Regions from separate parts of the Homo sapiens genome. Here region 1 is linked to region 2. Evidence: fine-mapped expression QTL. A gene starts in region 2. The other region holds a variant in brackets. All regions are shown on one strand. Distances are between the middles of the regions. Region 1 overlaps ABCC12 (ATP binding cassette subfamily C member 12). Region 2 holds the start of ABCC12 (ATP binding cassette subfamily C member 12).

Evidence for each region.
Region 1: its variant is fine-mapped to the expression of ABCC12 in testis (GTEx, PIP above 0.99).

The regions. Positions count from the first base shown.
Region 1 is chr16:48,085,623-48,102,150 of GRCh38, reverse strand. ABCC12 (ATP binding cassette subfamily C member 12) reads left to right here. Exons shown (of 31, transcript NM_001393797.1): 23 at 1,142-1,279; 24 at 5,249-5,405; 25 at 10,942-11,031; 26 at 13,417-13,606; 27 at 14,066-14,225; 28 at 15,332-15,410; 29 at 16,445-16,528. Among named protein-coding and RNA genes, the nearest start is that of ABCC12, 62 kb to the left of the region's middle. RefSeq lists an enhancer at 558-1,257. The variant G/A (reference allele first, on the strand shown) is at 9,838.
Region 2 is chr16:48,147,823-48,164,350 of GRCh38, reverse strand. ABCC12 (ATP binding cassette subfamily C member 12) reads left to right here and starts at 8,358. Exons shown (of 31, transcript NM_001393797.1): 1 at 8,358-8,510; 2 at 10,467-10,735. RefSeq lists an enhancer at 5,175-6,374.

The sequences.
Region 1 (16,528 bases), 62 kb after region 2:
AAGGTACATCTGTCATCCAGAAAAAGGGGCAGGTGTGCAAGGAGAGTAGCCTTTGAGCCTTTTGTTACCTAGGCGGGGAAAGTTGGGGTTTTCATTTTGATTTAGTTCTAGGAAGTCAGCGTGAATTGGCCTTAGGTTCCCTGCCTCCAGACCCTCTTCTCCTGTCTCCAAATGAAATGGTCTGAGTCTCCAAACTCAAGGGTTTATTGTGATGACCAAATACAAATAATTTCTGAGAGTCATTTACAGGATAAAAGCAAGTCCTGGATGTCATGCTTACAGTGGATTCTTTGGGCTCATGTTCCTTTTTGTCATTCCTGTATTTGATCATTGCTCTTGTCTGTCCTCCTGTTTATGCAGTTGATTTACTTAGTAAAAGCTCTTTCCCTGCTCTGTACCCACCCCTCTAGCTATAAAGACTAGACAGACCAGAGCTCGTCCTGCTTGAATTATCCAAGTGTTTCCAAACAACTCACTTTAGCTCTGCACTAATGAGACTTCCCTCCTCACTGCCCTGGGTTTGTTTTGGCTGAGAGTCTGGAGGTTTGATTGTCTTCTCTCTCGGGGGCCAGCCAGCTGCTGTAAACACCCGAGGTCCCTGGTCTCCTGCTCACCAGGGCTCCTGGAGCTTCCACATAAAGGGGAGCTGCATCCCGTGGGTGTTTGGTTTTAAAGTCAGCTATAATGACGTTCATTCAAAATTACCTTTGAAAATGCCTTTAGAAGGCCACATGTTGGCAGTTGACACACCGGGTTTTCTTCCAGAGTTAGATCAGATCACTTTTTCTCTGGCTGGGCACCAAAAAGTGGTTGGCTGATACTTAGGGGCTGTGCTGTATGAGAAATTTTGGTTTTAGAAGACTAGAATCACGCCTTGTGGAGCGAGACTTTCCTGATATGAGAAACACAGCACCGTGGCCAAACGAAGGTGCCGCTGACTCATGGTTCTCACGCCTCCGCCATTCCCACACCTGGGGCAGGCACCACTGCAGAATGGCAGGCTGCTCTTCATCCCCAGTTAGATGGCACCGTCTCTGACTTAAGCACTGTGCTGAGTGCCTAGTTGGCTCTGTATGTGTGAGGGCAAGCCTGATGAGACCTCACTTTGTGGCCCACCTGGCCCCTTTCAATTTTCTTCCAGCATTTTCCACAGAGGAGTCCAGGAGCTCAAGAAGGTGGAGAATGTCAGCCGGTCACCCTGGTTCACCCACATCACCTCCTCCATGCAGGGCCTGGGCATCATTCACGCCTATGGCAAGAAGGAGAGCTGCATCACCTAGTGAGTCCCATGTGGGGCCCTGCCCCAGGCCCCCATGCTTCATGCCTGACTCCGATGGGGAGTGCACAGGAGGAGGGAAGTCTGGGCTGCTGGGGACTGATCACAGACAAAGAGCTGGAAGAATCAGGAGGAGTCCTTGAAGACACTTGGCCTCACAGCCTCTCTTCCAGCATCTTGGGCCCCAGAAGATGTGAATGAGGGGAGCTTGTTCAATGACAACCTCATTTGTTCTATTTTTCATTCTAAAAGTAAAAATGTGTTTGATTCAGGAAGATAGGGAAAAGAAGAAAAAAGAAGAAAAAAATCACTTACAGCCCCTCCCCAAACCCAAACCTATTAATTTTTTCATGTTTCCTTCCATTTTTTGTTCTTTTTTTCTATTCATGGCGTCTTCTTTTTCTTCTTATTTATAATCATTTCTTAAATTTATTTAACAGTTTGAAATAGCCTGTTTCATGTTATTACACGAGTCTTGTAAAAATAATTTCTAAAGGCCACCTTTCATTTCACTTAGCATTTTCTTCTTTTTAAAATATGGGGACTACATTAGTAAATCTCTCTGGCATCTTCCAGCTTCAAACTTCTAAAATATGACATAAAATGTATAAATCAGACTGGGCGCGGTGGCTCACGCCTGTAATTCCAGCACTTTGGAAGGCCGAGGTGGGTGGATCATGTGAGGTCAGGAGTTTGAGACCAGCCTGGCCAACATGACGAAACCCCATCTCTACTAAAAATACAAAAATTAGCTGGGTGTGGTGGTGGGCACCTGTAATGTCAGCTACTTGGGAGGCTGAGGCAGGAGAATCACTTGAACCTGGGAGGCAGAGGTTACAGTGAGCTGAGATTGTGCTACTGCTCTCTAGCCTGGGCAACAGAGTGAGACTCTGTCTCAAAAAAAAAAAAAAAGAAAAAGGATAAATCACAGTAGGCTCACTGCAGTAACAATAAGCCCAAATCTTAGGGAGATCATGCAATAAATTTTTATTTTTCCTGATGTCACAATTTAGTGAAGGTCCATGGGGCAACAGTAGGTGATTGTACTCCACACTCAGGCATAGTCTGTTTCTATCTGGGGCTCTTCTGTCCCAAGGCCCTGAGGTATTCTCTCGGATCTTCTGTGTTAGGCCGGAAGACAAGGCGAGAGGCCAGGAAGGAGGACCCAGGGGGATTTTATGGTCCAACCCTAGCGAAGTGTCCCAAGATTTCTGCACATTCCTTGGCCACATTGGAGTCACATGGGCTCACCTAACGCAAGGGAGGCTGGGAAATGTAGTCCAGCTGTGTCCAAAGGAGGAAAAGAAAATGGAGTTTGGTGAATCCATAGCAGCCTTTCCCACTTTCTGTCTTTTCCTTCCTTAAAATGCCAACACACCCTTCAGAGAGAAAGAATTAGATGCAGTTCTAAAGGGTGCATCGAATGCATTCTAAGTTTGGAATTGCATTAAATTTATTTATTTTTATTTTTATTTTTTGAGACAGAGTCTTGCTCTGTCACCCAGGCTGGAGTGCAATGGCATCATCTCGGCTCATTGCAACTTCTATCTCCTGGGTTCAAGCGATTCTCTTGCCTCAGCCTCCCAAGTAACTGGGGCCCAGCTAATTTTTGTATTTTTAGTAGAGACAGCATTTCACCATGTTGGCCAGGCTGGTCTCAAACTCCTGACCTCAAGTGATCCACCTGCCTTGGCCTCCAAGAGTGCGGGGATTATAGTGAGCCACTGCAACCAGCCTGGAATTGCATTAAATTTAGAATTGCCTCTAATTCTCTCTCTCACGCCCCCTCCATTTTACCACCCAGGATCTCAGAGTAGACTTGACATCACACCTTGTCTTTAGTTCAGTCAGCACCTAGTCCGGACCCTAGTTTGACCTGAACATCGTTTGTCAAGAGTCCTGCCTCACACATAGACACTTCCAAAGTCCTGGCCATGAGGAAAGCCCATGGAGCCATTAGTCTACTCACCCACAACAAACACACATGCAAACTTTGTCTTCCCACAGCTTCTACTCCAAGATTTCTGAGAGAATCCTATAGGGAGCCAAGAATGACTGATGGGGGTTCCCTTCTTTTAATAGTTTCTTTCCAAAGGGCTTGGGTTTCTGACGTGTATTGCATTTGCCACCAGACAAAAATGCTACAGCTTAAAAAATGTAAAAAGATTAGAGGTCAAATTCCAATTTGATCCCAGCTAGTGATTTTGTTTCTATGCAATCTAACCAACCACACGGATAAGACCACAGGTGACTTCCAGGTCATGGAGGCTGTCAGTTGAATTTGTATGCTGTATAGCTACATGATAGAAACAGCACTGTGTTTTGAAGAATATTTTGACTAAGCTCTGGGGAAAATAAGTTAGAGTTGAAACAGAGAGGAGGAGAGGGCAGCAGAGCCCAGGGCGGCTGGTCAGAGGGGCTTCCAGGCAGAACTCTGGGAGGCCTTCCAGGACAGCATGGAGCAGCAGTGCCTGAGGCCATTCACAGCTATGCCAGGGGAGGAATTGTACCTCCTTAGGGCTTTAAGCGTGGAAGGGTTTTCATTTTTCCCCCAGTAGTTTCTACCAGCTGTTCTCATGAAGCCCTTCCCCACTAGATCAGGGAAGCCACAGTGGCAATTGAATCTGATGTCTCTTTTGGTTAATGGTCAGCTCAGTGCGGTGAAAATTTCAATCTTGAATATATTCAAGCCACAGGTCTCTTTCCCCCAGAGGCTTGGTGTGGCAAGGCTATGCTGTGTGTGTGTGTGTGTGTGTGTGTGTGTGTGTGTGTGTGTGTGTGTGTCAGGTGGGGCAGGCTTGCAATTGAGAAGCACCTGCTCTGTGCTTTTAAACACCCTCTTCCTTTTCTCCAGGCCTGGCTCTCTGATGCCCATGTGGGGGAACTGGGGAGGGGACAGCAGGAAGAACACATCCTTGGGTGACTGGCACCTCTGGGCCATTCTCTCCTTTCTGCTATCCTTTCCTGCTGCTGCAATGCACTGTGCAGATGTGGGACAGCAGCTTGGAGGCCCCAGTAGGGCCAGAACCCCAGGAGTTCTGCCAGCATTGCTGCATCGGTAGGAGTTGCTGGGTCTTCCTGTGAGTTCTGCCTGGCAGCCCTCACACTGCACTCCTCTGATGTGGAGGCCCCTTTGCTTCATGCCAGGGACCGTCACATCAAGACTGCAGCCTCCAAGGTCATCTTCCTTCTGCTATCTCAGCCCTAGGAACTGTGGAGCTGATGGGATCCACCTTGCATACATCTGGGGAATGCGGAACTCCAGGGGGTGGGTCTTGCCCCCATCCCCTGGCTGTGTCATCTCCCTGTCACTCCGCTCTGTGCTTCTTCCCCCCTCTCCAAGCCCTTTGGCTCCGTGGACGTGCAGCAGGGATGCAAGGTGTCAGCTTCCTGTCCTTGAAGAAGCTCCCAGCTTTATAAGCAATTGTCTTCAATCTTCTTTCTCTGATTCAGGGAGGGAAACCTAACATGCACCCTCCCTTCCCTCCTCTACAGTCACAAACATTGATTTCCCTAAAGGTGACCTCCTCCACAACCCACCCCCACCCTTTCTATAGATCAAGGGGGCCAATTGTCAATTCCACAAAGCCTTTGAGGGTGACTGACTCCACGATAGGGATCCTTTGGAGTCAGAATGTGAAGCACTCGGCACCTCTTCTTCTCAGCTGTAGATTCTAGCTGCCAGTTCTGGGAAAGACAGAAAGAGCCACTTAGCACCCTACTCTATTGCCACATGAGATTTCCCAAAATATGTGCAAATCAAAGATGTCTAGAGTGGCAGATTTTTAAGAGCATGAATATATGTTCATTTTTGTAAGAGTTTGCTATGTGAGAGTGTGTTCCCTTGATTAAAAATTCCTTGGCCTCATTTCTCCAGTCACCCTAACCTTAAGTCTACAGCACAACCTGATCTCCTGCTTTTTCTGATTTTCTTGACTGTAGGTTTAAGACGCTAAACGACGAAAACTCCAGTCACCTCCTCTACTTTAACTGTGCTCTCAGGTGGTTTGCGCTGAGAATGGATGTCCTCATGAACATCCTTACCTTCACTGTGGCCTTGTTGGTGACCCTGAGTTTCTCCTCCATCAGTACTTCATCCAAAGGCCTGTCATTGTCATACATCATCCAGGTAATGCCTGGTGCAAAGTTGGGCTTAGTCTGGAGGCTCCGGCCTGTAATACATCAGCGAGGGTGCTTTTGGATGGACACAACAAAAACCCCAACTCGAATGGGTTTAAATGAGAAAGGGAGCTTAGTGGCTCACATCATTAAAAAGTAGGATGGTTGTGTGGACTTCAGGCACAGTGGGATCATGTCTCTGAGCTTTGCCCATGCCCTGTGATGACTTTCCTCATAGGTGACCAGCAGCCTCTGGGGTCTACAGCAAAGAGGAAGCAGAAAGAAAGCATTTCCTGGCCCAGCCACGGAGGCAGAAGCCTGGAGCTTTACTGTTATTGGAGGAAAGCATTTCCTGCCCCAGCCATGGAGGCAAAAGCCTGGAGCATTACTATTATTGGATTAATTTAGGCATCCCAAAACTAATTAGTGGTTTGATGGGATACGGATCATTGGTTAGGCTAGGGTTGGAGTTACACCCATTTCCAACTTTAAGTCACATAGCTACTCCACAGTGGAGGGAGTGAAATGAATGCTGGGGAGACAGTCATAATATTGATGACAAATAATTACTGACTTCTCTTCTTGGTTGCTTTTTTTTCTTTTGAATAACAATAATAGGTGAACATACGGCATTGATTGTGATTGGCTTCAGGCCCTGTCTTTTAACTAAATTAATTCATTTCCTCCCCACAACAACCCTCTAATACTGCTGTGGTCCCCATTTTGCAGATGAAGAAACTGAGCCACAGAAAGACTTGTCCCAAGATCATAACAGCTGTCACATGTGAGGGCCAGGATTTGAATGCAGGCCACCTGGTCCTCATGTTTGTTTGAATCTTGTTATCTTTGGAAACTTTTTTGACATAGTCCTTATTCTTAGTGCTCTGAAACTCTGGGATAATGTATCTGAATGTGGGTCTTTATTCATGTGTTCTGTTTGATGCTGTGAGTTCTTTAAGATTAAAGTCCAATTTCTCATCAGCTTGGAAACATTTCTCCTTTTTCTCCTTCATTTTGACAATGTCCTCTTTTTCTTTCTTTTTTTTTTTCTTACTGTATTCATGTCAGTTGAATATTGAATTTCTTGCATCAATTCTCTATGTTTCTTTTTCTTTTCTCTCAGTTTCCATGTTCTTGTCTTTTTATCTTGGGAATTTTTGTTAGCTTTGCCATTCAGCTATTCCTTGAATTTTAAATTTGGCAATCATATATTCACATATTTAATTTCCACAAGCTCTTATTCTCTGAGTTTTTAAAAGAATCATTTTTTACATGGATGCAGCATATTTTTGAATCTCTCTGAGGATATTAATATTAATTAGTGTGTTAGTTCTCACACTGCTGATAAAGACATACCTGAGACTGGGTCATTTTTAAAGAAAAAGGAGTTTAATGGACTCACAGTTCCACGTGGCTGGGGAGGCCTCATAATCATGGTGGAAGGTGAAAGGCACGTCTTACTTGGTGGCAGACAAGAGAGAATGAGAGCCAAGTGAAAGGGGAAACCCCTCATAAAATCATCAGCTCTCGTGAGACTTATTTACCACCATGAGAACAGTATGGGGGAAACTGCCCCCACGATTCAATTATCTCCCAACCCACTGGGTCCCTCCCAGAACACGTGGGAATTATGGGAGCTACAATTCAAGATGATTTGTGTGGGGACAAAGCCAAACCATATCAGTTAGAGTCTTTTTTTCCCCTCCTAAACTCTCCTCCCTTCTTTGACTTGCATCTATCTGTTTCTTCCAGAGGTAGTTTTTCTTTTTGTTTCTCTCGTTCTTGCTCTTTCATGCCATTGGTTTTGTCCATCTGTCTCCTGACCCATTAGTATTTAACTCCGGGGAACTGGGTTGGGTTTTCAGAGTTTCCTCTGCCTTTGTTTCACCTTGCTAGGTGTCTCCTGATGGGAAATTTTATGACTGCAGGTAGGTGGGTGGTGGGGCTTTTCCATAGGCTGGCTTCACTTCAGGAAAGCAGCCAGGGAGCTGGCTTTTAGGTACCCAAATGCAAGACTTAAAGGAGTTTTTATGCAGGGGACTATTCAGAGAGCCCAATTTATCCCTAGGCAGTTAATTCAATTTCTTTAGAGAAAATCATGTTTATGTGTGTGTGTCCATGTGCATGTGTGCTCCCATGCCTAGGGATAAAGGGTCCAACTAACTCTGGTTAGGAGAAAGAAGAGGGGAAGAGGAGTGAGTGAACCAGACAGGAGTGGTTGTCTATATACAGAGCCTATCAGCCAGCCTCTTTGTGGGCCCCCTTCTCACACCTGGAGCCTCTCTGGGTTCTGCTCTTTAAACTCTAGCATGCTCTGCTTCCATTTTATCAAAAGGCTTTCGTCCTCTTTCCATCTTGCAGAAATTTGTAGCTTATTCACTGCTATCTCTTCTCAATCCCCTTACTGTTAAAGGTCTATTCTTTATGGAAAATTTCTCTGATATAATTTAAATTGTATTTTGGGAAGAAAGGAAACAAAAATGTATTCTCTGTACTCTCTCTTAAGTGGGGAAAAATGAATTTTCCTTGGGTAACCAGTTTCCTGTATTGATAGATGTCTTCATTTGTTGTTGCCTAGTAAAATATCAAACAGATGATGTTGAACAGTTTCCCTTAATTGGTCCAAGTAAAACAGCTTTCCCCAACTAAGGTCATGCTTTTGGGCGATATTATCAGCTTTCCATGAGATTGTTTTCAAACATTCCTGTAAGGTTGTGCACAGCATTGAGATCTATGGGAACACTTGTTCTCCAGCTGGCTCTGTGGCTTCATTGAGCATTAGCCCCCTTTGGAGAACACAGAATCAAAATGACAGCACTCCACTTGAGATTAGAGAAGACTCCCCAGATGGATGAGAAATTGGCATGAAATCCCACAGAGCAGAAAGTGAATGCAAAGTGACATCATATCACATCACGTAGGAGAATAAGCACTTCCTGGGGCCAGCACTGTGCCTTTGTGGGCATCCTAAACCTGGGAGGGCTGCCGTGGCCTTGGGAGCTGATACTCTTGCATTTAGCAAAAGATGTATATGCCCTTCTCAAGGGCAGGGTTCATTCATTCATTTGCCAGATATCCCCTGAGCACCCACCATGAGCCAGGAACTGTGCTAGTGGCTGTGGAATCAGCAGTCAGCAGTCTGGACAAGTCCTGCCCTCATTCTAGTGGGCAGCTGGAATAAATGAGGGCCAAGTAAATAGATGAGAAGCTCAGAAGGTGTTTAAATGTTAGGAAGACAACGAGTGGAGGAATGTGGCTGTCGGAAGGGGAAGCAGCATTTCATACAACAGCCAGAGGAGGCCTCTGCTGGGAGGTGGCTTCCAAGCTGAGACCTGAAGGATAAAGAACCAGCCAAGGAAGACTGGAAGAAAGAGTGCCTCAGGGAAAGGCTCAGCGGTAGGCATGATCCTGGCATGTTTGAGGATCTGAGAAGCCCACATGGCTTGAGCAAGGTGGTATGAGGTGCCGGCAGAGTAGAATACATAGAGCTTTGTAAGCCAGGGGCGGGGTATTACCTGTATTCCAAGACTGGGTTTCTCAACCATGGCACTGTGGGCTTTGGGGCTGGATAATCCTTCTGGTGAGGGGCTGTTCTGTGCGTGGTAGGATGTTCAGCAGCCTCCCTGGCTCTGCTCATGAGACGCTGGTATTACGTCCCTCCCGCCAGGTTGTGACAACCCAATCTGTCTCTAGACATGGCCAAATGTCCTCTGTAGGGCAGGTTGAGAGCCATTGCTCTAAAGAAGTGGAAACTGCTGAACTGTATTAAGCAGGGAGGCCTGCTGAGGGGCTCTCAGAGGGTCTGCACCCATAGCGTTCTCCACGTCACGCGCCTGCTCGCACCCCCTGCCTCTTTGCTGCTAAGACCGCTTGCTTCTTACTAGAGCATTCTTATCCTGAGTTTGACTGGTGGACTTCTTATCATAAATGCCTCAGCTCGCACAGTCCTCTGGAAACCCCTATCTAAGGTAACTCTCCAGCCCCGGCCCCTCTCCCACATCAACCTGCTTTTGGGACATTCTTGTCACTCCCGCAGTGGCCTTGTGCACCATCCCTGCCAGTCCACTAGAATGGAAGCTGCTTGAGTGCAGGGATCTTGTCTATAACCTTCAACTCTGGAAACCGGCACCCCAACCAGTACCTGGCCCATGGCTACTGCTCAGTCAATGAAGTTCGCTAATGCATGAGATGGCCCTGCCTCTAGCCCACTTGGTGACAAATGCTGTGGCTGCCCCACCCTTCCAGGGCAGGCTGGAGGTTCCGGGCATTCTCACACCCAGAAGCAAGTGCAGCAATGACTGAGGGAGTTAGTGGCTCTGTAGCCCTGTGTACCCTGGCTTCCTTGCCCCAGCACGGGACAGTTCCGAGGTGTGCTCCATTCAGTGTCCCAGAGCTCCAAGACCAGCCGGACTCTCAGTTGCCCACAGCGGTAACATCTCACA[G/A]ACACACCTGGTATGGGTGGCCTCTCTTCCCCTGCTCACTCCTCCATCCCCTCCTGGTACAATCTGGGTTCACCGCCTATGTTTGTTTGTGAAGGCTGCTGTGACAAATTACATGCTTGCAGGCTTCAAACAAGAGAAAGGTTTTCTTTCACTGTTGTGGAGTCAGATGCCCGCACTCAAGGTGTTGGCAGGGCCAGCTTCCCTCCGGAGGCTCGGGAGAATCTTTCTTCTCTCTTCCAGCTTCTGTGGCTGCTGGCCATCCCTGGCATCTCTTGTCTTGTAGCTGCATCACTCCAGTCTCTGCCTCTGCCTTCACGTCCCCTTCTCCTCGGTGACTTCTCCTCTGTCTCTTATAATGACACTTATCACTGGACTTAGGACCCACCCAGGTGATCCAGGATGATATCAAGATCCTTGCTAACACCTGCAAAGATCCTCTCTCCAAATGAGAGAGCATTCGCAGGTTCCAGGGATTAGGAAATGGACACATCTTTTAGGGGTAGGGACACCATTCAACCTGCCCTAATATACTTCTTGCAGTCAAATCTTGGGGTTGGCTTTTGGGAGATCCAGGCCTAAGGTGGGTGACCTTAGCAAGCCACATGCCCCAGTCTGAGCCTTGACTTTCTCATTACTATAACAAGAAGACAGGCTTGATGGTTTTCTGGTCTCATGGTGATGTGGTTTTCAGTTGTTTTTTGAGCAAGGGGCTAGGGGAGGGCTGCTCTGAGATGCAAGACCCTGCCAGGTGGCAGCAAGGGGCCGATAGCCAGCAGTTCTGCAGCTCCCAGGGAGAATTCCCACCACTCAAAGAGGCGTGTGATCAAGTGGTTCTGTGGGGAGATGATTCTCACCATCTGGAGTGCCAGGGAAAAATGTAATTACCATTTGTTTCTAAATACAAAGGAAGTGTTTAAAGGCAAAACACCCGAACAGGAATATCTTTACTTCTGGGCGCTTGGCTGGGAAGGCAGGCCTCCTGTTTGTGCTGTCTTGCGCTAGGCAGGGGAGGGATCATTCACTAGGACTGCCTCCTGAACGGGGAGCTGCAGAACCCGAAGGAGGAAGGGGCTCTAACTGCGGCTGCTCGCTCCTTTTCAACAGCTGAGCGGACTGCTCCAAGTGTGTGTGCGAACGGGAACAGAGACGCAAGCCAAATTCACCTCCGTGGAGCTGCTCAGGGAATACATTTCGGTAAGAAATTAGTGCATCAGAGAGGAGGGACAAGTTAATTTTGGCAGGACTTGGGCAAATACTGGATCTTTTTAGATGCGAAAGGGGTCTTTTTAAAAAACGGAAATCGGGCCGGGCGTGGTGGCTTACGCCTATAATCCCAGCACTTTGGGAGGCCGAGGCGGGCAGATCACCTGAGGTCAAGAGTTTGAGACCAGCCTGGCCAACATGGTGAAACCCTGTCTCCACTAAAAATACAAAAATTAGCCAGGCATGGTGGCGAGCGGTGGTAATCCCAGCTACTCGGGAGACTAGAGCCCAGGAGGCGGAGGTTTCAGTGAATCGAGATCGTGCCATTGCCCTCCAGCCAGGACAACAAGAGTAAAACTCCATCTCAAAAATCAAAAACAATAGCAACGACAAAAAACCCCAAATCGGACGAGTCATCCCTCTTCTTAAAACCTGTATTTACAATACATTCTGAAGTTCTTGTTGTTGAATGTGAGGTTCTTTTTAACAAGGTTTCCTTAAGGGCTGTTTTGATACACAGAAAAATACAATTCAGTGGCTTACTTTGGTTTCTAAAAATTAATATTTTGCCAGGCTCAGTGGCTCACACCTGTAATCTCAACACTTTTGGAGACCGAGGCAGGAGGAATGCTTGAAGCCAGGAGTTTGAGACCAGCCTGTGCAGCACAGTGAGACCCTGTCTCTACCAAAAAAAAAAAAAAAAAAAAAAGTTCAAATTTGCCACGTGTGGTGGCATGCACCTATAGTCCTAGCTACTGAGAAGGTTAAGGAGGTAGGGTCACTTGAGCCCAGGAGTTTGAGGCTGCAGTAAGCTGTGATGATGCCATTGCACTCCAGCCTGTGCAACAGAGCTAGACCCTGACTCTAAAATTTTTTTAAGTTAAAAATTATTATTTGATTGAAGTCATAAGTTGAAAAATAGAAGCTCAGTCTAACTCTTCTTTAAAAGCTTTTATATCCAACTTACAAATCTTGCTATTCTTTTAAAAGAAGTCTAGCCAATTCTAGCAATCACATTTAGGTGCCTTTGAAGAGTGTTTGGCTCCATTTACAAACTTAAAGATTTTAAAACATTTTAAACTGCATTTTAAAATTTAATACATTCAATTTCTTTTTAAGTACCTCAATGATCTGATTTAACAACAAACCTTCTTGAGTTTGTACAAATTTAATTAATTAAACTTATAAACATAGTAAGCTTTAAGTTTTCATGACAGTATCAATGCTATAAACAGTAAACTTTTAACTTAAAATCGTGTTTAAATCAATTATTCAATTATGCATTTTAAATTAGAGTCACAAGCCCAAGTTCTGTTAATATATTGTGAATACTTGAAACACCAAGTGTGCAGATTTCTTAAACTAAAAATATTACTGTTACAGTTTCATTTCTCTAAAATATTTTTATTCCTAATTCTAAATCTTCTAGGGGTTAAAAATACTCAGTCCTTAACAATACAGGTATTTTCTCAGCTAAATGAGGTTGCTTATTGACCAGAGATTTGGGCTGGTCCGCCATCCTGATGGGGCACACGGGATCCCTATTTCCAGCTGTTTACACAGAGGTGACTTAAGAGGAGGGGCTGCTCTTGTGATGAAGCCAAGCTGCTCTACTCCTTAATTAGACCTTGCATTTCTTGGACTCTTAGGAGACTTAAATGTTTTTTTTTTCATGTATGTCTAAAGACCTCTGAACTTGACATCCTGCATTCTTATCATCTTTCTTCTTCTAGTATAATGATGATTCTTGCAGATTTTGAAATTATATCTGGTTGAGTTCTGCAAACTCAAGGCTATGTCTGGCCTTGTCACACAGCTTCAGGGCTACACTTCTGACATTTTCCCAGGCCCACAGGCCCAGTATGAGCTTCCCCTTGTGTATTCCTCTAAGTCATCCATCCCTCTATTCGCTAAGCTCCAGCCACATGACTTTTCTTTCCGTCCCTCAAATTGCCCAAGCTCATTCTGGCCCCAGGGCCTTTGTGCTAGCTATTCCCCCAACCTGGAGGGCTCTGGACTTGATTCTCTTGTAGCTGACATCCTCCCAGCACTCCAGCCCTCAGGTCCAATGTCACATAGGTGCCTTCCTGAAACCTCAAGTACTTTTACTCTCCTACCCCCCTTTCCCAACACACAAATCACATTCTGTATCCTATTGCAATATTCTGTTTTATTGTCTTCATTTTTAATTTTTTTTCTTGTTTATTATCTGACATCCCCACTGGAATGTGAGTTTCTAGAATTAAGGGTCATTATTGGTTTATTTCACCACCATGAATAGCAGTACCTGAAACTGTGTGAATCAATGAATGAATTAGTTAAATAAGTGAAAAAACAAATGGCTAGTCACTGGTCATTGGTTATTCTCCTTTACAGACCTGTGTTCCTGAATGCACTCATCCCCTCAAAGTGGGGACCTGTCCCAAGGACTGGCCCAGCCGTGGGGAGATCACCTTCAGAGACTATCAGATGAGATACAGAGACAACACCCCCCTTGTTCTCGACAGCCTGAACTTGAACATACAAAGTGGGCAGACAGTCGGGATTGTTGGAAGAACAGGTTCCGGTGAGGACAAGCTCTGCTTTTGTTTCTTTTGGGTTGTTTTCTTTGGATTTCCACTGGATGTCCTAGTTAAGTCACACCAGAGAGTGATGTGTATGTGTGTCAGATTGGCTGTTATTTCCCTCAAATCTCTTTACTGTAAATTAGGATTTCAGGTTGAATGGGTGTGTAGAGATGGAAGCAAACACATCAGTTTTTGAATTAATTAAATGACAATCATCCTAGTGCAACAGGGCTCCAGAGATGAGTTGTGTGCTAAGGGCCCCTGCAAGGATGGGCAGGTTAACTGTGTCAGGGTAGCCCATCCCTCCACCCCCACCCTGGTGAGGACACTTTCTGTCTACACTGTCATCCTTACGGAGACATTTGCATTGCATTAAAAATCCCACTGATTAAATGCTTGGATATGATGGAAGCACAAACTGATGTTTGATTTGTTGTTCTTACTTTTATGGTTCCCAGGAAAGTCATCGTTAGGAATGGCTTTGTTTCGTCTGGTGGAGCCAGCCAGTGGCACAATCTTTATTGATGAGGTGGATATCTGCATTCTCAGCTTGGAAGACCTCAGAACCAAGCTGACTGTGATCCCACAGGATCCTGTCCTGTTTGTAGGTACAGTAAGGTAGCTGTTTTTAATCATTGTGCATTTCTATTTTTGGAGAGTGAAATCAGACTGACCAAGAACTTTGTGATGTCCCCAGGGCATGGCTGGCCTGGAGCTGTTCTGTCTGAGGGAAGCAGTATCCCAGGGGGGCTCACAAGCACTGCTGGTCCCTGTTTCTGCATCCAGCCTTGGGAGGAGCCAGGGCCCGGGGTCTGAGCATTACTTGTGTTTTATAAACACATTATTAATGAGCAAGATGCTTCTGTATTCATTCATACACTGAGCAGATATTCCAGTGGCTCTGGACAGCCCTAGTTTATGCCTGTGTCCCAGTATCCCATCAGGTTTAACAATGGCCACTCTGAAAAGTGTCCCAGTTTGCACAATAAAATAAATAGTTACCCCGTGTATACAGCTATCCATTGCAAAGTGCATTCATTTATTTCCACACCTAAGTGAACAGAAGCTATTTCAAGCACAAGAACAGTAGGGCTGCAGCTTCTGTGGGGCTCCAGATCTGATATCAAGGCACAAGGGGAAAGGCAGTTTCTCAGTTAGCTCTCTCTGTGATGAGAGGAACATTTCTCCCATACAGCACCAGATGAAGTAGGGTAACTGTATTTACTGTATTTAGAGTTCATTGTTTGAAAAATGCATTCTGCCTCTTGAAACAGTAGATTTACATTCTGCGTCTGAGCTGCTCAGCACCCTGTGAGGCCCTAGGAGCTGCCGATACATGGAGTGGCAGATTTGGGTTGCTCACTCTCCCTCTTTCTCTGCCAAGAATTTTTATCAGTTCAAACCCACTCTGCTACTCGGGGCTGCTGAGAGGCCCAGGTGTGTCTTTCTGAGCACCTTGCTCAGAGCTGCCTCTCGGCAGGGTTCCACCTGTCATTGCCTGCCTCAGTGGTCTCTGCTCCATTGCAGAGTTGTGGGCCCTTGGTCTCGTGGCCTGAGGTCCATATTTTGTGGACCACTGTCCTGTACTGAGCACTATTCTTGGAGCACGAGGTCATCACATGCCACCTCCTACCCTCCTCCACATGCTACAGAAAACCTGCTCCGCATCCATCCTCTCGTCCTTGGAAATCTGGCTCCCTGTCCTCTCCTCTCCTTCATTGCAGGTACAACTTGGATCCCTTTGAGAGTCACACCGATGAGATGCTCTGGCAGGTTCTGGAGAGAACATTCATGAGAGACACAGTAGGTCTCTGGGGCTGTTGAGGAGGAGTTTGTTTCCCAGCACCACTGCCCTAGATTCCTGGCCTATGTTTAAATTTGACAAGCACCTAGGCCAGCACTTAGCCAGGTTTATTTGTAGACACCACGTAAGTCAGTAGAACATAATCCTTAGTTATTCTTTCCTATTAAAAGCAACAATAGGGCTCTACAATGATCCAGTCAAGAGCACTACATGTATCATCTCACTTGGTCCTTACTACAATGCTCTGAGGTTGGTACTCTTACCCCTAATTTTAGAGATGAAGAAATTAAAGCTCAGGGAAGTAACATGCCCAGGCTAGTGAGTAGCAGGATGGAGACTTGAACTCAAGCCTGTCTGGCTGTAGAGCAGATGGAAGGCCCTGCTACTCTGCCAGTGGCCTCATTTGCTATCAGAACAGACAAGCCACAGAAAACAGAAGGGTGTGGAATGTTCTGGGAATGGCAAGTATGGCTGGTTGGAGAGGACCGAACCATCTGTGAGAGGGAACCCTGTCCTATAAGAGCTACAGCCCCAGCTGGGGTCAGCAGGTGAGCATGGACACCTCTGCAGCCCAACGTGATATTTTTCCAGGACTTGGTACCGACATGAGCATCTTCCAAGGCCACTTTGGCTTGTCACTCTGGATAAGTCAGACCCTGTCTTACCCTTCCTTAATGTCCAGAAAACTCTCCCATCCCATCTCTATTTGGTCCCTGGAAACAGCAATCCAGAAAGCTGTTTCCACTTGTTTGTTTGCTCTCTGGGACTGCATCTGCATCATTTGTTCTTTTGGTGAATTGTCTATGGGGTTCTATGAGTCATACTGTGATTTTAAATTATTAATGTCCGTCTACTCCCTGGTCTTTCCCTGGTGCCTGTTTGCAATATTGAAATGATTGTTGTTTTGCACTTTCTTTGCCACAGTAAAATAAAGCAAGCTGATGAATGCAAGAGAAGGGGGCAATCAATACAGACAGCATAGGACAATTTTATAGATCATCAGCACAAATGTGGCATTTTTTGTGTTTTGTAGATAATGAAACTCCCAGAAAAATTACAGGCAGAAGTCACAGAAAATGGAGAAAACTTCTCAGTAGGGGAACGTCAGCTGCTTTGT
Region 2 (16,528 bases):
GATAAACATTTAAAAATTGGTATTTGGTCTTTCAAAAATAATACTAAAATAATTATAATGAGAGAATGCAGGGCTTTGCTGTGCTTTGTTATATTTATTTGATGGTTTGTTATTATTTTTATTTTCAATTCCATACTGGCGGAGAGGAGGTCATGGAATTTTTTTAGAGGTTCTAGAGGCATGAGTTGGGGTGATGTTGTCAGAGGCATTTGAACCAGATCAACTCCATCTTGAATAGGGGCTGGGTAAAATAAGGCTGAGACCTACGGGGCTGCATTCCCAGATGGTTAGGGCATTCTAAGCCACAGGATGAGATAGGAGGTTGGCACAAGATACAGGTCATAAAGACCTTGCTGATAAAAAAGGATGCAGTAAAGAAGCCGGCCAAAACCCACCAAAACCAAAATGGTGAAGAGAGGGACCTCTGGTTGTCCTCGCTGCTCCACTCCCACCAGCGCCATGACAGTTTACAAATGCCATGGCAACGTCAGGAAGTTATCCTATATGGTCTAAAAAGGGGAGGCATGAATAATCCACCCCTTGTTTAGCATATCATCAAGAAATAACCATAAAAGTGGACAACCAGCAGCCCTCGGGGCTGCTCTATGGAGTAGCCATTCTTTTATTTCTTCACTTGTTTTTTTGTTTTGAGACGGAGTCTTGCTCTGTCACCAGGCTGGAGTGCAGTGGCGCGATCTTGTCTCACTGCAACCTCCGCGCTCCCGCCCCCCTGGTTTAAGCGGCTCCCCTGACTCAGCCTCCCAACTAGCTGGGACTACAGGCGCCCGCCACCACGCCCAGCTAATTTTTTGTATTATAGTAGAGACGGGGTTTCACCATGTTAGGCCAGGATGGTCTTGCTCTCCTGACCTCGTGATCCGCCCGCTTCCACCTCCCAAAGTGCTGGGATTACAGGCGTGAGCCACCGTGCCAGGCCCCTTTACTTGCTTAATAAACTTCCTTTCACTTTACTCTATGGATTCGCCCTGAATTCATTCTTGCGTGAGATCCGAGAGCCCTCTCTTGGTGTCTGGATTGGAGCTCCTTTCCTGTAACAGTGTGGTCCACAATGACAGCAACTGATGTGCAGAGCAAAGGAGGCCACAGTCACGCTGGCCCTGCCTGCCCTGCCCTCTGTCTGCAGCCCTGGACAATATCGTAAGAGAAACTGGTAAATGAGCAGTCTTCAGAGACCAACCTCTATGGTGGCCAGAGCACCATGCTGTGCAAGGCACCAGCAGAAAGAGGGGAAGACTCAGACTTCAGTCTTTCCGGTCCGGAAGGGCTTCTTTCAGAAAAGTGGCTCCAGAGGGCAGCCCCAGCCTAGAAGGCATGGACCTTTGGGTCACTGGAAAGGTCCCAGGAGGGAGTGGCTGCCTGGAGGGGCAGGGAGCTCACCGTGGCTGGGAGCATTTTCTGGCTCTGGAAAGCTCTCTCCAGTGCAAGGTGAGGGGCAGTGTTCTTATCCCCAGGCTGGGAGCGGGTCCCCCAAGGCTGAGTGCTGGGAGAAATTCTGCATACACCTCTCTGTGGACTGGGACACTGGAATGCAATAATGGAAATAATAACGCCTGACAGCAGAAGTTTTCAAACTTGAACTTGAGTATCCAAATTGCCTGGAGGGCAAGACACAGATTGCTGGACCCCAACCTCATATAGTTCCATCCAGTAGGTCTGGGGTTGGGCTTAAGAATTTGCCCTTCTAACAAGGCTCAGATGTTGCTGATACTGCTGGTCTCTGGCCCGTGCTCTGAGAACACAGAGGTTAGCTGAGAGCACGTGTCCCATATGATCTAGACAGGAAGGGTCCAGGCCCCCATGTGAATGTGCTTCCCAAAGTTCCTGTGCTTCCGGGCACTTTGATTTGCATGACCTCTTTTAACTCTGCCTTCCTGAGCATCCCGCTAGGCCATCCATCCTCTCCTTTGCTCCACTGCATTCATCTAGCAGGAGAATTCAGCACTTCTCCTTATTTCCTTTGTATGTGTAGACCACTTGAATGAAGGGTGGGGTCAAAAGAATTGTTGACAGCAAGTCAACAACTTCCAATTGAATATCAACCATGTGCTTTCTTAAGGAGTCCCTCACCATTCTACCCACTCTGGCTCTGGTTTCCTCTCTGGTTCTCTAATTACTGTCTGTGTTCTCCCTGCCCCCGCCTCCCAATTCTTGGACACATTTTATGCAGAGCAGTTTAGTTCTCCCTTCTGGTGCCCTTTCCTGCCAAGCAAGTCATTAGGGTGTCTCTGACTGCCCCAAGAGACAGATCAAGGCAGTTGCTAAACAAAAACGGTTCCCACCCTCTGATTCACTCTGGTGCCAGCTGTTAAGATTGTAAAATTTCACCCCATTATCCTAAATGTCCCCTAATCTGTCCCCCGGCATCATTTAGAAAATTCTGTGGAATCCAACTGCTTCAGAGTCAGAAGCAATTTTAGAAGTCGTCAGTCCAGCTGTTCTTAGCCTGTGGTCCATGGACCTCTTAGCTAGATTCAGGGCATCTATGAATTTGGATGGGAAAAAAATGACATCTTTATTTTTACAAACTGAAATTTGGTGTTTTCCTTGATGGGGCAACAAATAGATAGTATTAGCAGTATCTGTGACTTTGTTACCAATAGAAATCAGCGGTATTCTCAAATCTCATTTCAATTGTTTCAGATGTCTCAAAATATCACTTACATGCATCAATGCTTTGAAATTATAATAGTCATTAGAACTTCTGCTAGATCACATTACTTAGTGCATCAATATAGAAGCATATACCTTACAGTATTCAGCTGTGTTTTATACATATTATCATAAGCACATTCTGCATAATTGGTTATCTTTGCAATCCTATGTACTTTATCTCATGCATAGAAATACTTTTTCTGAGAATATACTAGAATGCCAAAGAGGTCCATGGCACACAAACAATTTAAGAACCTGCATTTAACTCAGCTCTTTGATTTTCTAGAGGGAACTCGTGTCCCAGGCGGAGGAGATACCTTGCCCACAACCACACCACTGGCTTTTAATAGGCTGGTTTAGAACTCGAATATAAAACAGGAGAGGGGGCTGGGCGCAGTGGCTCATGCCTGTAATCCCAGCACTTTGGGAGGCCAAGGTGGGCGGATCACCTGAGGTCAGGAGGTCGAGACCAGCCTGGCCAACATGGTGAAAAGCCATCTCTACTAAAAATACAAAAATTAGCCGGGCGTGATGGCATGCGCCTGTAATCACAGATACTAGGGAAGCTGAGGCAGGAGAATTGCTTGAACCTGGGAGGTGGAGGTTGCAGTGAGCCGAGATCGAGCCACTGCCCTCCAGCCTGGGCAACAAGAGAAAAACTCCATCCCCAAAATAAAATAAAATAATAAAATAAAACAGGAGAGGGAAGAAAACGAGAAGGATGAAGCAAGCAGTAAGGGCTGGGGATAAAGGCCTCACCCCCAAACCAGCCAGCATGGCCTGCTCAGAGCAGGGGGACAGATAGGCTGCCCCTTCATGGAAGTTCTATTTCTAGTGCCTGACAGCCCCTTACGCAGAGCTTGCCATCCAGTGCGGCATCTCTGAGGAGCATTAGTGCAAAACTGTGATTCATCAGAGCAAAGAGGAGTACACTTTGCTGACTTGATAAGCGTGTTTCTTGCCAAATCCTTGGTTCCCAGATACTTAATGGGTAGCATTGTACTCTAGAGAGAACCGTACCGATTTGGAAACTTCTGTTCTGATATGAGGGTCTCAGTCCCTCTCAGTGGCATTCACTGAAATGCTCCCCACCTCCTTCTCCCCTCACATATCAATATCCTTCACTGATCTGGGGTGTGTTCATGATTTAGACTTAACAGAGCACTTCCTCGCATATAATTGCATATAAGTGCATGCCATAAGATTGTGTACAGTTACTAGAGATGGCTGAGTTTTTGCTCTAAACTCCTTAACAGCCCATGCAAAGAAAGAAATAGGTTTATTACAAGATTGTTATGACCACCATTTAAATGGAAAATTCATTTGTTTGCAATTAGCATAGTTTTCCTGATTCTGAGAATGGATTCTTTGAGAATTCTTTCTCATGTTGGGGGCAGGTTTTAACTCCTAGGATCAGCTCTCTGAGCCAAGGGGCTTGCTCAGGTCTTTAAGCTGTTAAGTGGTGGAGCTGAGAACAGCACCCACATTTTCTGGCTGTGAAATATTTTTGTTCTTTATTAGAGGGCTTGTTCTCTGACTGTTGCATGCATGTATTTCTGGCTCACGAATCCTATTATTGCTTTACTTACATATATTTCTTCCACTTACTGTTTTAAAAGTCCATGCAAATTCCAATTACTTTCCAAAATCACTTGACATCAGCTTTGTTTGACAGTCCTTTTATATCGCTCGCCTTAGTTCATTAGGCAAATAAAGTGAAAAATCCAAACCCCTTCTTTTAGCAGAGACATCAGTGTATTTCTACTAGACAGATTCTAATAGCAACCCAGGAGGTAGAATTCTTACTTCTAGCGAGATTCTGCTAATTTTTTTTTTTTTGAGACGGAGTCTGGCTCTGTTGCCCAGGCTGGAGTGCAGTGGGGCACGATCTCGGCTCACTGCAAGCTCCGCCTTCCGGGTTCATGCCATTCTCCTGCCTCAGCCTCCCGAGTAGCTGGGACTACAGGCACCCGCCACCACCCCTGGCTAATTTTTTTGTATTTTTAGTAGAGATGGGATTTCACTGTGCTAGCCAGGATGGTCTCTATCTCCTGACCTCGTGATCTGCCCCCCTCGGCCTCCCAAAGTGCTGGGATTACAGGTGTGAGCCACCGCGCCCTGCTGAGATCCTGCTAATTTTAAAATTCTTATTCACAAACAATAGCTACCATTTATTGAGTGTTTGTTTAAGGCACTGTGTTTAAGCGCTTCACTTCCATGATCCACTTTAATCCTTAGTTAATTTACAATGCTTTCAGGATAGTGTTTTCATTTTGTAGTTGACGACATTGAAATTTAGAGATTTTGAGGACAGATCTGATTCCAGAGTTTCTACTCTTAGCCACTGTGAGCTATTGATTCTATGTAACTGCACACACTGATTTCTGAGCACTTCTTGGGGCCTTTGGGCCAAGTCTTTCTGCTCTTTCTCTCTTATCTGTCTCTTTCCGTCTTTGTCTCCCCACTCCTCTCTCTCTATTTTTTTTTTCAGACAGAACCTCACTTTTTTGTTGTCATTGTTAAGACAGAGTCCTGCTCTGTCGCCCAGGCTGGAATGCAATGATACAATCTCGGCTCACTGCAACTTCTGCCTCCAGGGTTCAAGCGATTCTCCTGCCTCAGCCTCCCGAGTAGCTGGGACTACAGGTGTGCATCAGCATGCCCGGCTAATTTTTGTATTTTTAGTAGAGATGGAGTTTCAACCATGTTGGCCAGGCTGGTCTTGAACTCCTAGCTTCAGGTGATCTGCCTGCCCAAGCCTCCCAAAGTTCAGGGATTACAGGTGTGAAGCACCATGCCCGGCGAGAACCTCACTTTGGAATAGAGACCCCACAGAACCTCAGAGCTGGGAAAATTTCCTTCCCATCAAGCACCAATTTTCCCTTGCCATGGAGCACCACTGCTGGTATGTGCGCACACAGACCCCTAATTTATGCATGTATAGTTATTTACAAGGATGTGCAGGGTGGACATGTGTTGAGGCTCGGACAACAATACCCCAAAGTATGGCACTTTGGCAGGCTGAGTACTTTGAACTGATGGAGTTTGGATGACCTCAGAAGCAGCCTCAGAAGCAAGTTCTCTCTGACCTTCTCCTGCCCTCCTGCACCCCTTGTGCACCTCTTCTCCCATGAGGTGAGTCATAGAAACCAGAGTTCCCCTTCCCCAAGGTGAGTCATAGAAATTCTTCCCCCAAAGCCACCGATAGAACCTAAAACTATGACTCAAACTTTCCTCCACCCTTCTGCACAGGAGCTGGCCGTAAAGAAATTCTCTGACCAACTTTGTCTGAGAGTAGGTCCTAAGACCCTCATTCCAGAGGGGTCGTGCCCCATACCTAGAAAGAAGAAATGCTGTGCAGAGAGGCCAAGAAGAATCTGAACAGACAGGCCCTGCTGGGTCCCCATCCCATCACCTCGGTCCATTACAGTTAATCAGAACTTTCTGTCCAATCGCATTTCTATACCACTGTCCATTCCTCATTGAGTCTAAGCATAAAAATGGACAGTTCTTCCTGAGCCTTTCGGTATTCATTTCTGAAGACTCACATGTCACATTAAACTTTGATGAAATAAAATTGTTATGCTTTCCTTTTGTTAGTCTGCCTTTTGTTACAAGAGTGTCAGCCATGACCCACATGACTGGTGAGGAAAAGTATCACACTTTTTCTCCCCTACACATGTATATCACTGTACACAATTTTTTTTTTTGAGACAGAGTCACTCTCATCATCCAGGCCTGAATGCAGTGGCACGATCACAGCTCACTGCAGTCCTGACTTCCCTGGCTCAATTCATACTCCCACCTCAGCCTCGCAAGTAGCTAGGACTACAGACACATGCCACCACGCCCAGCTAATTTTTGTATTTTCAGTAGAGATGGGGTTTCACCATGTTGCCTAGGCTTGTCTTGAATGCCTGGGCTCAAGTGATCCACCTGCCTTGGCCCCCCAGTACTGGGATTATAGGCCTGAGCCTCTGCACACAGCCAAAATAGAATTTTTAAAGGAAGAGGAGAAATATGAAAAGGATTTCTATTTTTTTTCTTTTTGTATTCCAGTGGATTATCTCGCCCCCCCGCGAGCTGTGTGTACACCCAGGATGGGCCTCAGTTCCCTGACTATGGGTGAGTCCACGCTCTGCCTGGAACAGGAGCTTGGCTGGTCTTTTCCTAAGGACTTCCTTGGATACAGACCGGACAGTCCCTCTCCATCATTCTCCACTCTGTTTCCGGCTAGGCCCACCAATCTTCTTGCGTAGCGCCCAATACTGTTTGTCTGGGTGGAAATCCATCTCCGCCCAGCCTTTCATGGAGATAGAGGAAAACTGATCGGCATTCTTCCTCCATAAACTTGACAGCACTTGACTCCGTTTGGAAGATTGTGGAAGCGAGTCTTTGCTGTGTTTATGAGACCCCCGGGGTTGTTGCGAAGATCAAGTGATAAAGAGGATGAAGAATTTTGCGATACACAAAGGGCTCCAGAAATGTCGAGTGATATTATTAGCAGTGATTTGCATTCATGAAGGGAAGAATGGACGGAAATTAAATGGAACACTTTGGACACGTGTAAGGAAACTGCTGTCGGTCTAGCTCACTCCCCAGGCCGGGGAGCCTTCCTGGGAGGACCCATTTTCCTACACAGCTGCCCACAGCCCCTCTCCATTTCCACCTCCCTCTAGGTAGGAAGGGAACTCAGGTTGGGCAAAGGCGGTGAATTCGCATCTCCAGGAAGCGGCGGGGCCGGAAGGCAGCCAGCAGGGGGCGGCATTGCGCAGGACAGGAGAAGGTAGCGGCCAAGTTCCTCATGAAATCCACGTGCGTGAGGCTGGGAAGGTCCTCTAAGATGTTTAAATAACCCTTAAAGCGGAATCAAGATTTGTTTTTTTCTGCAGTTAGAGAGTTTGCTCCCTCCCAGCCGGCTCGCTGAGCGCTGTGGAACCCTTCGGCTGGGCTCCCCTGAAATCGGGCGCTTGTTCTGGGACAGGCGCAGAAGGGACCCCGGGAATCACGCTTGCGCTCGGGATGTGCAGGGTTCCAAGGGTGACACAGGGGAACTTTTCTATGCAAGGGCTAGCTGCTAGTGCAGGTCTCAGACTTACCTTCCGTTCATTTCAAGACAAATTGAGCTCAAATTACCCTTTTCTTTTTCGTTAAATGAATGGGGAATGAATGAATGAGATTTTCTGTTTTGAAGATGAGGCTCATCTCCCCTCCCCTCGCCTCCCCTGCCCTCCCCTACCCCTGCCCTCCCCTACCCCTGCCCTCCCCTCCCCTCCCTTCCCTTCCCCTGATCCCAAAGTTGATTCCCGGTTGCAGGAACACAGCGTAGAAAATTCGATGCATTCTCTCAGGAAGGAGCCTGGAGTGGGACTCAGGGGACCTGGGTGCTGGTCTCAGCCCCACGCCAGTCGTGGACAGGCTTCTGTTCCTTGGGCTTCTCGTCTGTAGAATGACGGTTGGAGAGAGGATTTTTCTCCTTCTCTTCTACAAGGATGTGCTGTGACAGCCAGGGAAGGGCTGGCCATGCACAGTGCTTTCATGCATGGGCTCTGACTGTCACCAAAGAGCCAGACCCGGCCACAGGCCATCCTGGAAGAGGGGAGAGCCCTTTAATGTGGGCAGAGGGAATGTTGGCCCGCCAGAGTTCCCTCTCAGGTGTGGTGGGAGTGGCAGTTGAATGGGGCAGTTGGAGAGGAGGACTTCAGGCGGGTGGGACAAGAGAAACTGAATCTGAGGTCCTTGGGGAGAAGCAGGCCCTGGAGTCCTGGGCAGCAGATGCCAGGCTCTGAGCCCCATGACTGCTGACCCTCCTCCCCTCCCTCTCATCCTCAGCCCAGGTAAAGCTTCATTTCCAGCCCAGGTAAAGCTTCTCCCTGTAACAATTAGTGGCCACCATTTAGTCCCAAGGGCCTTTGTTTCTCATCCTCAGGACAGGCTGTGTGTGTGTGTGGTGGGGGGTTTGGGGGAGGTGACACCACTGAATGGGGCTGCCCAAGTGGGAGGCAGCAGGGACGAGGCTCCCAGAAGAAAGGCAGCCCCTCTTCCACTTTTGGAGCCCCCGCTATCATAAAAGAAAAGGCAGAAATGCCAAGACGCGATTTCAAAATCTCTGAAATACAAAAGCCTACATTGAATATTTTAAGTCTTTTCCCACACATGCACAAACACAAACACATATACAGGGTAGTGTTCACAATTTAATTATGGGATTTATACCTCCCCCCCAAAAAAAAAGACCTGGAAAGCTTTACTGCAGTTCTCATATGAGGTTTTCATCTTTCTTTCTTTTTTTTTTTTTTTTAACTTTTAAATATATTATTTTCCTGGGAGGGTAGATTTGAATTGCTCTGAATCCAGGCTCTGCATCCTTCTTTGATCGTGTCGGAATGTGTCTGTAACTGGATGGATGACCTCTTTTGGAGATGCCATCACTGGCCACTGTTTTAGGCCTTCTGGGAGATGAGGGTACTTGAGCAAAAGCACCCCCACTTCCCTTCCCACACCCCCAGCTTGGTGCTGTCCCCTGCATGCACTTCCCTCTGCCACCTCTCTGCCTCTCCCTGCCTCCCAACCCCAGTCCCTCATCACTCACAGGGCTTTCTGATCTGGCTGCCACAGGTGCCTGGGACCTGGGGACAGACAGGAGAGGTGCGGTGCAGGCAGGGCCTGGGAGAGCTCCCCAGTGTCTCCTCTGTGCTGGAGGCCAGTCAGGCCCTGGAGGAAGGGGCTGTGGGAGTTGGGGGAGACCATCAGATATTGATAACTTTGGTGGCTTTAAATTAACAATGGATTTATTAAGAAAGAAGTAGGGCTGTAGTCTCATACCTGGGAAAAATTTTATGACTAAAGGTGTGCCTGCTTTTGGTTGATGGAGGAACTCCCATCATGAGCACCAAGGAAGACCCAGAGTCCAGTTCTCAAACATAAAGTTGTTAATTTTCTGGGCTAGACAGGGGCAGAAATGAAATATAACAGAGCAAAGTGGGCAGGTGTGGAAAATGGTTCTTCTTGAGATGACTTCTAGACATCTTTTGTTCTCTCTTGGGGCAGAGACAAGGATAGAGAAAAAGGCCTCAGGAAACACTATAAGGAAGACAGCAGTGCCAATGCAATAATAAATGTTACATGACCCCAAATCTCAGAGTCACAGAGACAGTAAGGAGTGGTGGGGATTGTGGCAAACTAAAGCATGTATACCCTGCCCAGGAGGGGCTGCCGTGCTCAACGTAAGTGGATTGTCACCACATGAACATACAGAGCTCTTGATATTTGACGAAAGCCAGAAGCCAGTCTTATTTTTTTTTTAATGTGGTATCTCCTCATTTTTAAATGTTTTCCACAAATTGGAAAAAAATGTTTAAACTATGCAGGCCATATAAAATGGAACTGCAAGTTGTACATGGTCTTTGTGTCCTGTGCTCTAAACAGAGGCCTTCCTGCTTCTGCCTGTCCAGTCTGTTGAGGTTAGGTTAGGAACCCCCTGCCTGCTAGCAGAGGGGTGCACCAGTGACTTTTTGGCATCTCCTGCCAACCCTCAGATGCTCTGCATGGAAAACACAATGCCAAGAACAGAGCCATGATGGCTGCAGGGACCCTGGCCCGGTTGGCACTGCCTCCTCCCAGCTCTCATCAGCTGTGTACCCCTCAGACCCCATCCTGTGATTGCCAGCAAACAGATTTCTCACCCCAGGCAGCTCCTCACTCCTGGCAGAGGATGGCGTGACAGACGGGGATAGAGACGTTAGCCAAAGCAGGCTTCCTGATTTTAAAAAAAGTCTCATTTTTCCCCCCAGGGCTGCCAAATTTAGCAAAGTGCCATTCCAGCTGCAATGCTTCCAAGCCGCCTCAGATCATCAAAACTTCACATGCCCTGGGGAGCACTCAAGGAAATTACCTTCTAGCACCAATTTCCTATGCGCGCTGATTACTCAAACCTGGCCAGGGAGGCCTGGCCTCCAGTGTTTGGCATCTGGGACTCAGGAGCCCTTAAGACAAGCTGATGACATCTTGCTGCCAGGGTCCCTTACCATTAGAAAAGGGAACCAAAAAATAGAAGTTATAGGTAAGGGTTCTCCACTGACAATGAGTTCCACCTTCTCAAAGGGGCTGGGAAAGATTAGCCTGGATGAGAGAGGACTAGCCACTGGGTGGCTGGGAGTGAGTTGTCGGAAATGACAATGGTCCTCAAATATCACAGGGCACATGAAGAGGACATCAGTGGAGGATGCATGGCTCCTGAGAGCTGAGAAGTGTGCAGAAAAATTGCATTTAGTTCCACAGAAGGAAAAAAAAATCATCCCCTTTAGGGCTATTTCTTTAGAAAATGCTTAACTTTTTATTTTGTAATGATTTCAAACTTACAGAAAAGTAACAGAAATAATGCTAAGAGATCCCAACTACCCTTCACTGAGATTTGCAGTGACATTTTTGCCACATTTACTTTAGCATTAATATCAAAATCAGGAAATTTATCTTTGATAAAATATTATTGCAGAATCTATAGTCCATATTTAGATTTCTCCAATGTTCCAATACTGTTCTTTTACACATTTCATTTACTTATTTTTATTTTTTTAGAGCAGGAGTGAAAATTTATTAAAAAGTTTTAGAGCAGGGATGAAAGAAAGTAAAGTACACTTGGAAGAGGGTCAGGCGGGTGACTTGAGAGTCAAGTGCACAGTTTGACCTTTGACTTGGGCCAATAATGTTCTTTATAGCAAATTAATTTTCTTCTGGTCAAGCATCCAATCCAGGCTTGTGTGTTGCTTTTAGCTGTCACATCTCTTCTGTATCCTTTAATCTGGGATGTTTCCTCACTTTTCTTTGTCTTTCGTGCAATTGACGTTTTTGAAGAGCACAGGCCACTTGTTCTGTAGAAAGCTCCTTTGGGTTCATCTGGTATTTTCTCAAGACTAGACGCAGGGTATGCATTTCCTGCAGGAATACTGCATGCGGGCCGTCTTGAGAAGAAGTGACTGGGGTCTGTCACCAAAGCATGTTGAGGCCCGATCTGGTGGGCCAGAGGGAAATTCTCCCTGAGAGGCTGGTTTGCCATGTCTTGGATTCTATGATTCTCCCCCAAATAATTTCAGCTGGGTTTCAGAACTTGCCGTGAGCTCTTTCTTCTTCATCAGCTAACCTGCTTTCCTACCTCTGCTTTGCTCAGGTTACCAAGGGCAGGGCAGTGGCCCAGCGGCCACTGGGAGGTCGTAGGTTGTTGATCATGGACCACAGCTTGACTGTCCGCTGTGCCCGGCAGTTGCAGAGCGGGTGGACATGTGGTAGAAAGACCGTGCCCAAAGGCCGTACTTGGGTTCAGGCTTCTTTTCTTGCTTCCGATCCAGACCAGGGCTGGGTTCTGTTCATGCAGGGAGCCAAGGACCTATGCAAGAATGAGAGGCCAATTTTTAAACTTTTCAGCCCCAGCATCTCTGCAGTGGATAGCCTCCCTCTGTCTCCTGAAGTAAATGCAGAGAGGTCAGCAGGAGGCTGTTCTGAGTGGAGGGTGCCTTGGGTACAGAAAATTCTGAAGGGCTTTCTGGTAAACAAACAAATGGAAGTCTTGTGGAAAAGGATCCAAGGAAGGTTTTGAATCTGAAGTCTTTCACGGTCATGCCAAGCCTTGTCTCGACTCTTACCTAAGTCTGGTGCATAGAGCCCCATGACACGGGCACACCACACAAACCAAGGCTCAGGCAAAAATCTCTGTTTGGGCTTTTTCTCAAATCCTTCTAGTCTCACCTCCCACAAAAGTCCTCCCTAACCCCGTCCTCCTCCCAGACCGTATTGACCTCTACTTTCTCAGAACTTCTGTAGCACAGGTCTGCATTACTCAGTGACACTGAGCACAGACAGCCTGCTTTCGGCTTTAGATTCTTAAACTTATGATCAGATATTACAGCAATGTGGGAGGAAACCTGAGTAACTTCCAGATCTTATTTCCCCACCCCTAGAGGTAACCATCATCTTGAATTTGGTGTAGAGTGTTCCCATTCATTCTGTAAAAATAAACTTTATTTTTTAAGAATGGTTTTGGTTTACAAAAAAAATTGCAAAGATAGTACAGAGTTCTCCAGTACCCCATATCCAGCTACCCTTGCTAATAACATTAATAACATCTCATGTTAGTATGGTATATGTGTTGTAATTAATGCACAATATTGCTACATTGTTAACTAATATTTATACTTTACTAGATTTCCTTTGTTTTTATCTAACATCCTTTTTTGGTTCCAGGATCTCATCCAAGATGCCTCTTCACAGGTAGTTGTCAGGTCTCCTTAGGTGCCCCTTGGCTGTGTCACTGTCTCAGGCTCTCCTTGTCTTTGATGACCTTGACAGTTTTGAGGAGTACCAGTCAGGTATTTTGTAGACTGTCCCTCAATTGGGATTCGTCTGATGTTTTTCTCATGATTAGACCGGCGTTATGAGGTTTTGGGCGGAGGACCTCAGAGGTAAAGTGCCCTTTTTGCCCCATCATATTAAGGGTACACGTTATCAACAGGACTTATCACTGCTGATGTTGACCTTGATTACCTGGCTGAGGTGATGTGTGCCAGGCTTCTCCACTGCAAAGTTGCTATTTTTTTTTCCTTTTCCATATGGTACTATACTCTTGGAAGCATTGGATTCTAGTTGATTAAGTTGTTTCTCACAGGGCTATGGGTTGACAATTCTGATACTGCTATACATGTACACAGTTAAGTAAACACATGGTAGATGGTGAGAGCCAGGCTTCTCAGTTTTAGAATTGGAGCTTACAAATAAGCAAGGGGAGGAGGCTAGAATTGTGATAATTATGGTAATGGATTCAAGTTGGAGAGTCAGTATGAACTCACTGTTAGCTTAAAATAGATATGGACGGTTACATATAGAAATATTTATAGATATGTGTTTATGCACTAGTTAATATGCATACATATATTTCCTTGCTTTGTCAGCTGAGAGGGCCTAGAAGCAACAACATCCTAATAACAAAGAATTTACCTAGTGCCCAGATCTTAGTTCTAATACGATTCTCCAATATAAGGAGATTCAAGTACTTGGAGAAATGAAATCTTACTACAAATATAGTCATTATTAAATAAAATATATTATTATATATTGCAAGCACATGAATTTGTGTATTGTATATTTTGCAAGTTTGCAAACTTTATATAAATGGTATCAAAGTGTGTGTATTTTTCTGCAGCTTTTTCCCCTCCTCTCAATTTATCATATGAGCTATACACATAGTTTGATATGTGGACTTAGTTGATTCAGTTTTACTGTTGAATAGTAATATGCCAAACTCATATTATACAATTTGTTCATCCATTTTCCTATTCATGTATGTTTAAGATATTATAAACAGAGCCACTATAAATATTCCTGTAGAGGGGCCACAAAAATATTTTTTGCATGAGATTCCATCCTCTGTGGATTGTTTCCTTGTGTTTTCCTAGATTGAACTTCAGTGTTGACACCAGTATGAGAGAAGAGAGGCTAGCAGGGGCAGGGAGGAAATTCGCAGGAGAGTGGAAGACAGCCTGCAAAATTAGTGGCCACTCTGTATCTGACTGCTTGAACAGGCAGGCTTTCTCCAGGGCATATATATAATTAAGAAGGATAATTGCTGCCTATGTTAGTAAGAATCTTTAACTTGACCAGATAATGCCAAATTGCTTTAAAAATTAGTTATACAATTTATATTCCCACCAGGGGTGCTTAAGAGCTGCAGTGCTCCATACATATGCCAAGACTTGCAATTTTTAGACTTTTAAATAATGTCTATTTGAAGAATGAGAAATGGCTGTTATTGTGATTGTGGTTGTAATTCATATTTTCCTGATACTCAGAGATTGAGCATATTTTTGTGTGTATTTGGATCATCTGTCAATTGCCTTTTGCTGGCTCCTCTAATTAATTGTTTGTCCTTCTGTTATTAATGTATTGAGAATTCTTTATAAATTCTGCATACTAATTCTTTACAGTTAAATGGGTCACATCTGTGCCAGTATGTTGCTTCTCTTACAAATTATGTCTTCTGTAATTTCAGTGTACTAGAATTTATCAAGATTTTGCTTTAGGACTTTTTAAAGAAAATTGCTTTAAGAAATTATTCCCTATCATAAGATCATAAATACATATCTCTGTATGTACTTTGTACTGTTAACATGGTATTCCTTTTTCACCCTGCTACTTTTAGCTTATTTGTGTGTTTATATTTAAAATAAACTTGTCATAGGAAGCATATCATTGGATCTTCTTTTTATATTCAGTCTGACAATCTTTGTTTTTTAATTGAAATATTTACTCCATTTATATTTAATGTAATTGTTGATATGGTTGTGTTTAAGTCTATTGGCTTGCTATTAATATTTGTCTTCTATTTATTCCTTTTGTGTTTTATTCTTCTGTCCCTCCTTGCCTACCTTTTTTTTTTTTTTTTTTTGGTTAATCTACTATTTAGTGTTTCATTTTATTTCCTTGACTGACTTCTTAGCTTTAACCCTTTTTAAAAAGTATTTTTTCTAGGGCTAACACAATGTTATAATTTATACTTTATTTGTTATTTTTATATCATCCCATACTTAATTTCAAAATAATTTATATTTTACTGTGTGTTATTGTGTGCTTATTTTTCACTTTCTGGGGAAAGGATTTGCATCTTAGTTGTTTCTCATACTTACTATTATTCATTCATTCAACAAATACGTATTAAACATTTCCGATGTACCAGGGACTATGCTAGGTATTGGAAATATAGCTGCAAACAAGACAAACAAGAAGCCCACAGTTTGTTTGGGGAAATAAAAAAGTATGTAGGAAAGTTTTCTTAGAAAAGGAAATGTTTGAACTGAGCCTTGAAGGCTGAGCAGAAATTGGTCAAGTGAAGAAAGGGATACTAGATGGTTCCAGGTTGTGCCAGTAGTAAATACAAAAACTAAAAAGCAGGAGGAATAAACAGTTTGTCCAGGGAGTAGTAAGATATTCCACATGGCTGGAGTGCAGTATTCAATGGTACAAATAGAAGGTGGAGAGTAGAGTATGCAGTTTGGCCAGAGGTTTAGGGAGTCTCTGGTAGCTGCTAATACTCTCATTGAATTAGGAATCTACAGCTGGGTCTATGATATTTATGTCATTAATATTCATTAACTGCACTGGGCACAGTAGCTCATGCCTGTAATCCCAGCACTTTTGGGAGGCTGAAGCAGGCAGATTGCTTGAGCCCAGGAGTTTGAGACCAGCCTGGGCAACATGGCAAGACCTCGTCTCTACTAGAAATACAAAAATTAGCTGGACATGGTGGTGCACGCCTGTAGTCCCTGCTACTTGGGAAGCTGAGGAGGGAGGATCACTTGAGCCCAGGAGGCAGAGGTTATGATGAGCTGAGATGGTGCCACTGCACTCCAGCCTGGCGACAGAGTGAGATCCTGTCTCAATTTTTTTTTTTTTTTTGGTGACTCACGCCTGTAATCCCAGCACTTTGGGAGGCTGAGACAGGTGGATTACCTGAGGTCAGGAGTTCGATATCAACCTGGCCAATATGGCAAAACCCTGTCTCTACTAAAAATACAAAAATTAGCCAGACGCAGTGGCGTGCACCTCTAGTCCCGGCTACTCAGTAGGCTGAGGCTGGATAATTGCTTGAACCCGGGAGGCAGAGGTTGCAGTTAGCCAAGATCGCACCACTGCATTCCCACCTGGGCGACAGAGTGAGACTCCGTCTCCACAACAACCACAATAACAACAAAAACTTTAAATTCATTAACAATGATTAAAGAGCTTTTCATCAACTACTAGCTCTAAAACATGTGGGCTTCTCCATCTGACTACGAGTCTTCAGTTTCCACGTTGGGGGATTTATCTTTTT